Linked DNA regions of Homo sapiens. The protein of the gene in region 1 purifies or fractionates together with the protein of each later gene. This does not show direct contact. Each region holds a gene or a part of one and is shown on either strand. Other genes may lie near its edges. The genes, in order: MACIR and PPP2R2B.

The links.
Region 2: the proteins of MACIR (region 1) and PPP2R2B purify together in Homo sapiens (co-immunoprecipitation; one large-scale study listed by IntAct). This does not show direct contact.

Annotation. Positions count from the first base shown.
Region 1 is NC_000005.10:103,265,021-103,268,849, reverse strand, and holds part of MACIR (macrophage immunometabolism regulator), read right to left. Parts: intron 2,943-3,829; 5' UTR 2,853-2,942; intron 1-2,852. UniProt on the Homo sapiens protein: Regulates the macrophage function, by enhancing the resolution of inflammation and wound repair functions mediated by M2 macrophages. The regulation of macrophage function is, due at least in part, to its ability to inhibit glycolysis.
Region 2 is NC_000005.10:146,592,231-146,596,059, reverse strand, and holds part of PPP2R2B (serine/threonine-protein phosphatase 2A 55 kDa regulatory subunit B beta isoform), read left to right. Parts: intron 1-2,997; coding exon 2,998-3,089; intron 3,090-3,829. UniProt on the Homo sapiens protein: The B regulatory subunit might modulate substrate selectivity and catalytic activity, and might also direct the localization of the catalytic enzyme to a particular subcellular compartment.

The DNA.
Region 1 (3,829 bases):
CCAAGACAGGGTCCTGCCCAGAGCCACATAGATAGTTAATGCCCATAATTACAACCCAGGCCCCCTGGCTCCAAGTCCATGTTGTGCTTCTAGCATGTGGTTCCCAAACTTGTCTACACCAGAATCATGCAAGGAGCTTCAAAAACTGCTGATGTCTGTTTTCCATCCCAGATTTGTGATTTAACTGATCTGGGGTGTAGCCTGGGTTCTGCAAGTTGTAAAAGATTCCCAGGTGATTCTAATATGCATATAGGTTTGGGAACTTGTCAGATAGAACTTATCAGATAGAAGAGTTTCACTCTTTTAAGTCCCTCCTTTGTTTTTAATCAGTAATTACTGTATAGTCATGTTGGTGAACATAATTTTTGGCTGCTTATAATTGCTAACAACCTACCCCTAGGCCTTCTAATTTACTGTTCCTAATCCTCTGTGGGCTGGAAATATCTGCTAACCAAACGTGTTAAAACTGCATATAAAATAAAAATAAATCTGTGCTGAATGAGAATCGGGCTCCTTCATCTGCACACACTTTGGCGTAGTTATTTTAGCTACTTAGAAGCCTTTGTCAGGTGCAGCTACGTTAGAGAACAGTTTGGCATTTACTTATAAAATTGAATAAATGTTCATTAAACAACACAGCCACCATACTCATAGATATCTAACCCAAGAAAAATGAAAATACACGTCCATACAAACACCTGAATGTGAATATTTATGACAGCTTCATTCACAAACACCGAAACTGGAAACAATCCAAATATCCATCAACAGGGAAAGAGATAAACAAACTGCAGTCCATCCCTACAATGGATACCACTCAGCAATGAAGTGGAACAATCTGGGGAAACATTAAGTGAAAGAAGCAGACATTACACCTATATACTACATGTTTCTACTTACGTGGCATTCTGGAAAAGGCAAAACTATTTGCCAGAATCAATCATTAATTGCCAAGGCCTAGGGTGGGGAGAGGGGATAACTACAAAGGGGAAAAAGGGAATTTTGGGGGGTGATGAAAATGTTCTATTTGTTGACTGTAGTGGTCATTACATAACTGGATACATTTGTCAAAATGCATCAAACCGTACACTTTAAAAGGACGGATTTTACTAAGTTATAATAAACCTGACATTAAAAATAAATGAACTCTTTGTCACATATTTCCACGTTTCAGATGGTCCTCCAAATTTTAAATTTTTTTGTACCGTATAATTTTGGAATCAAAAGGAATCTTAATAGTTTCCCAGTGTATGTTTGAACACCTTCAGTGACAGGCAACTCACTGCCTCCCAAGATGACTCATTTCACCTTGTGCAGCTCTGCTAGAATGTCGATTTATTTACACATATATCTGTATGTACATGCATATATACAGTCAACCCTGTCTCCACGGGTTCTGCATCCATGGATTCAACCAATCACAGAGAGAAAATATTTGAAAAAGCAAAAAATTACATCTACACTGAATATGTATAGACTGTTTTCTTGTCATTATTCCCTAAATAATACAGTACAGCCACTATTTATGTAACATTTACATTGTAATAGGTATTATAAGTAATCTACAGATTATTTAAAGTATACAAGAGGATGTGCATAGGTTATAGGCAAATACTATACCATTTTTGTATCAGAGACTTACGTATCATCAGATTTTGGTACCTGGGGGAAGTCCTGGAACCAATCCCCCAAGGATGCCAAGGGACAACTGTATAAATATAGGTATATACAGAGATAGATGGATAGACATAGATACACATACATTCCTGTAGTTTCTACCCATTGCTCTAGTTTTGTGCTTTATTTCTATTAGCTGAGTCAGTGACCAGGCCACATTGTTTTTTATTCAATATCCTCTCCAAGTACTTTGTACTATGGTTTTCAAACTTCTTACTCTTTTCCTCAAAACTGAAAATTTTAGTAACGTTTCCAATTTTCCAATGTTCGAAAATGCATTTTCATAAATGTAATAGGTTTTATCTACTTAATGAGATTAAAGTATTTGTTTTTCCCTACCATTCCTTTGAATCATTCTGCTGCTGACTAGAAATTTAGAAATCACTTATTATGAAACTCCGCTTTCTCTAAGGATTATGATCTCTTTACATAATTCAAGGCAAGGATGCACAAAGATAATGGCCAAGTAGAATGACACACCAAAGCATGAAGTCACACTAATATAGTCTTAAGGATGCTAAAGAGCTACCATAGCTCATTATGAATTTCTTTTTTCCCTTCAAAGACTTCGAGACACATGGACAACTATGTCAGCAAAGATACACAGATGACACACTGAAAAAAGACAACTAAAGGAAGAAAACAGCATTGCATATTTTTAACCGTTTAAATTCAGGGTGTGATAAAAAGAATGTCACATTTTCAGTGAACTGCTGTACGACTAAGTGAAAATAATGCTCCTTTCAGACACCTGTTGGCTCATTCTTTATGTATGATAATATATAACCAGAATTTTTTGCAAATTATTTCAGCAATGTTTGGAGATTAATGTTTTTACTAAAATTTGCCCCAAATTGGAACAGTTACCTCTAACTACTATACTTTGAAATATTATTTCATAAGATCTTTACGTTGAAGAAATTTAAAGGAAGGAAAACTTAGCCAAACATTTCAAATAAAATAATGTTTGCATATTGCAACAATAAGTTCATTTCTCACCATTAAAAATTTGTAATTATAGTATACATATTTGCAATAATACACCAACATTTCACATTCACTTGATTAACTGACATTTCACATTCACTTGTTTATTTATGTAGTCTTTAAAAAACACATTATGGTATTGTGTTCATACAACTGTTAACGAACGGAAAAAGCAAAATATAACTTACCAGACTAAATCCCAGAAGATGTCACTGTACAATTTCCAATGAGTCCCAAGGGAACACAGACATAATAATTTTTCTGTTCTACTCCAGGTACTAAACATGAAATACAAAAATAAACCTTTAATTTAACAAGTAACACAACTTATAACATGATATCAATTCTAACTGCAAAAGAGAATAAAACTAGCAGGAGGTAGTAACATCAAGTATAGGTTATATAGGACCCAATAATTAATTAATTCAATTGATGTTGAGTTTGTTCACCTAAATGCATCCTCAAACATTTTATCATGTGTATTTCTCTGTACTCTGTTACTTAAATTCTACCTAGAGACTAGGAGTACCTAACTGGGCTAAATAAAGAGACAAGAAAAAGTAAGGTAATAAGTATTGGTTTCACCATCCTAGTCCTATTCATGTGTTCAACCGATTCACAGTACTCTATGGAAAAAAAATAATGCTTAGGCTAGGATCAAAAGCACAGGCCATAGTTCCTAGCTCTGGCCTTGCCAAGAACTCTGCCTCTTGACCCTGCATAAATATCAATCTCTAAAATGTGGACCGTAATAACCCCCCTTCCTCCCTAATACAGTTGTTAGATGGATCAAATGAAATGAGGTAGGTGAATGCTTTACATGCTGCAAAGCTCTTTACAACGTGTGATGCTATTATTATGCAATTAATTTTTGGTATCGACTCATTGTAGCCATAAAGCAGCAACAATGTAAATCTTTCATAAGACTGATGCGAGGCAAATGATTAGAAGTCTCTTGGATAACACAACAAAAAAAGAGAGTGACTGAAAAAGCACTTTTTTATAGTTACCACCTTACTTAAGGTTTCTAGCATCTCCTCTGTGCCTTCCCTCTCTTACCTGGGAAGTTAATGTGTAAGAGAATCTATCTTTATCTCCTACCTCCCTAGTTAATAGGGTTAATTTGCTGAGACGAGGAAAACCCTCCAAAGTCCTTTTCCACCTG
Region 2 (3,829 bases), about 43 Mb from region 1:
GGCCCACAGAGCTTAAAATATTTACTATCCGGCCCTTTGGAGAAAAAGTTTGTCAACACTTGAAATATAAGAACGGACCAATAGAGTTGGCTCTTTGTTTGCCTCATAGCAGTCCACTAACTATATGACACTGGACTCCCACAAATAAATATGAGAAACACTGTACTGGGACACTCAGTCTGGCGTCCAAAATCCCATGCACAAATTAATAGGATCATAGAAAAGTCATACTAGGAACATGAAGAAAGAACATCAAATAGGATGAGTTTTAAGTTCTCTCTTGCTCCAAGCTCTAGAGGTTGCTCATGTATACATCTCACTTTATTCTTTCCTCTAGTAGAAAAAGGTCCCTCTGGTTTGCCTAAGAAGACTTTTTTTCTGTGCAACAAAACATAAATACAGCATACCTTCATAGTAGACATTCTTTTTCTTTAAATGCTGTCAATTGGAGGCAGATAGGAGCTACCCAGACCTTAGGTATGGTGGAGAAATAATGGTTCAGACTAGGTTTTCCCTTGAATCTATCCCAACTTCTATCTTTCAAGAATTATTTACAGAGTTCTCAGCAATGTCATTCCTGCTAATGGGCGTGACTTCCAAAGCACACATGTTTTGACACTTATAGAAACACTGCAGGTGAGTAATAAGACAAAATGCCGAAGGTGAATGGTGACAGATGAGGAAAGGTTCATCACAAAGCAGACATATGGAACTAGACCTTAAAAACCTTGCCACTGCCCAGTTTATATACCTTTACTGCTGTGCCCCCTAGTGAAGGTGAATGAGTTAGTTTATAGCAGAGATGCCTCTGTAAGGGCAGGACACAGCCTCACCCTTGCAGCCCCCAAATGCACCTAACAATGCCAAGAGCACTGCTGTAGGGGTATTCCCTTGTCACCAAAGCACTGAAGCTGTTACCCTGACAAGGCCTGGAACTGTTTGGAAGTGAGAGAGTAAAGGTGGGGGAAAATTAATTTGCAGAGTTAGAAATAACTTCCTCTGTCCAAATAACTCAGAGCTTTTCAAATACCCAGAACATCTAATGGAACATAGGATGAGCCTGACCTCGTTCCTTTGCCCAAGACTAAGAGCCTGAAGCTCTGCATCCAGCAGAACTGTTGGAGTCGAAGGAAGAGAAAGAGCCGCAGTTGCAGGAAAAAAGAGATCGAATCATCACTCTTAACTTAAACACCAATGCCCTTGGTAGCCTCCCTCTGCTTTCACACAGTTCTATCTCCTTCTCTCTCAGCCTCACTTGAGTTCATTATCACAGCTCCTGTCAAGGACTGAGGACCCACCAGAGCAAGCTGGAGGCAGGTTGCTAGTGCAGCTCAGAGTGTGCACTCCAGAGCCTGATACCGGGGCTCAGTTCCCTCCCCTTCTGTCACTTTTTCTGTGTGATCTTGGACAAATGATGTCATATCTCTGTGCTTCATGCTCCATTAAAGTAAAGAGAATGAAAGTACCTACATCATAAGATGGCTTTAGAGATGAAATGAGGTTTTGACAGATAAAGCACCTGGCTAATAATGACAAGCCAGCATATTGGGTATGCCCGTTATTATTGCCACTCCGTGCTAGTGGGTTCAGGAAGGATTACCTTCAAAACAGAGAACCCAGGCTACTACTCTCTGAACCTTATTCATCTATTTGGCATCTACAGCTGAGTTGCTGAATGTAGCTGGAGAAAAATATTCAACTATGCTTGATGAGCCTTATTTGACATACATGTCCAACAACGTCAAGTGTCCCCTGGTGCCTTCCAGAAATCTGACACTGTTTCTCAACCCTTTCTCTCTCCTGCTCACTCTTAGTTGATAACCATGCTGGCTGCTTTCACTGGAAAAGAGAAACCAGGAAAGAATCGCCACATACTCCAGGACAGCACCTTTCACCTCAGAGTCTACTCGACAGCTCCACATGTAGACATCTCTAAACCATTGTACCCAAAAGTGAACATGGTACCTACTCCTTCCACTTGCTCAGGAGAAAGATCAGGGAGTCATCTTTGACTCCTGTTTTTCTCTCCACACCTCAGAGTTGACCCAAGTCCTATCTGCTCTTTCCCTAAACAAAAGGAGAATCTGACCAGTCCCCATCACTGCTCATGCCCTGGTCCAGGCCAGAATCTATCACTCAGGTTATAACTGGTCTCCCTCCCTTTGCCTTTGCACCCTTAGGATCCATTGCAACACAGCAGATTCAGCAATCCTTTCTGTGAGGTCTCTTCTTCCTCAGAATAAAGGGCCTATGTAAACTGATCATCCTCTCCCCCAGCTGCTTACTCACTCCTCTCCCACCACACTCCCTCCAGGATTCCTGCCTCTAGGCCTTTATGTTTGCTGTTTCCTATGCTTGGAGAGCCTTCCCCTCACCCCAAACCCAGACATCACTGTGGCTCATTCATCTCCTGCAGGCTTCTGCTCCAGTGCTACCTCATCCAGTGAAGCCCTGACTACTTGCCCTGTATAAAATAATACACCCCCGACAAGATCTCCCAGGCTCTTTTTCCATACACTTTTGTTCTATGATTTTATCACCATCTAAACATCTTATTTATTTACTTGGTTATATAATCTGTCACCTGACACTGGGTCAAAAGCACTGCAAGGATATTTGGCTCACTGCTGCATCTCAAGTGCGTAGTAGGTATTCAGTAAATATTTGTTGAATAAAAGACTGCATGAATGGTGATCTCTAATGCCTGTGAGCAAATCAGCTTAGAAAATGAGAATCTACCACTTATTTAGTCTTACTGGATGCCACTGTCTATACAAGCAAGCTTGATTAATCCATATCATCTACATGAGAAGCTCATCAACCCATCCTAATGTCCTACAGCTAAAAGGGCCAAGCCTAGGTTCAGATCCAAGGCCATCTGATTCAAAGAGCATGTACAATGAAAGATTTAACAGCTCACATCAGAAGAGGAGGTGTTTGCAGAAATAATTACTGTTTAAAATAATAACTGACCTTCTCGATATGTTTCCTCTCCAGGTTCATGACTACCTCCGCAGCAAGCTGTGTTCCCTCTATGAAAATGACTGCATTTTTGATAAATTTGAGTGTGTGTGGAATGGGTCAGACAGGTAAGAAAGGCTCTGTGGCTGAAGAACCTTCCAAAGATTGTCTTGAAGAGGCTCAGGGAATTTATCCTAAGTAGAGTACAGCCAAAGGGAGGTCAAAATTGGGCCCCAAAACCTGGCTGAAATGCATAATGTGGGCCCCTAGTGACCCTTGAAGTCAAGGCTGGAAAGAAGAGAAGGATGTAGTAAGGCCTTTGAATCCTGTTTCTGAACTGGCACAGATAACACCTTAATGTTAATAAGAAAGTCCTATCTTTTTCACACAAGACACCTCCAGCACTAGGTCAACATGCCTAAATGAAGATCACTTATCCACCAGCAAATTCCAGCCTGAACAGTTCAGATTAATGCCAAGTAGGCTTTCCAGATCAAAAATTATCCCTTGAAGCTGCTAGTGGAGACCTGGCCAACGGCCCTGGTAGTTCATTAACTGAATTCTAGTCAACCTCATTTATCACATTCCCTCAAAGTGATTTATTACTATTTTAAGGCCTTTGATTTGAACAGTGCTTCATAATACCTCCCAATAGTTCATTTTTAGTTTGACAAATACAAATGATTCTCTGATTTCCATGAGAACTAAGTGCAAGCTACCAGGGGCTGATTTCGTTCCTTGATGAAGGTGGCACCAATAATAGTGTTTGAAAGCATAGAAATTCTGTTATGGCAAGACATTCAGAGATTCAAGCTTTCAGTGAATATGAACTGTCTCTCTCTCACACTCCACCTGTTTCTTGGCTTTC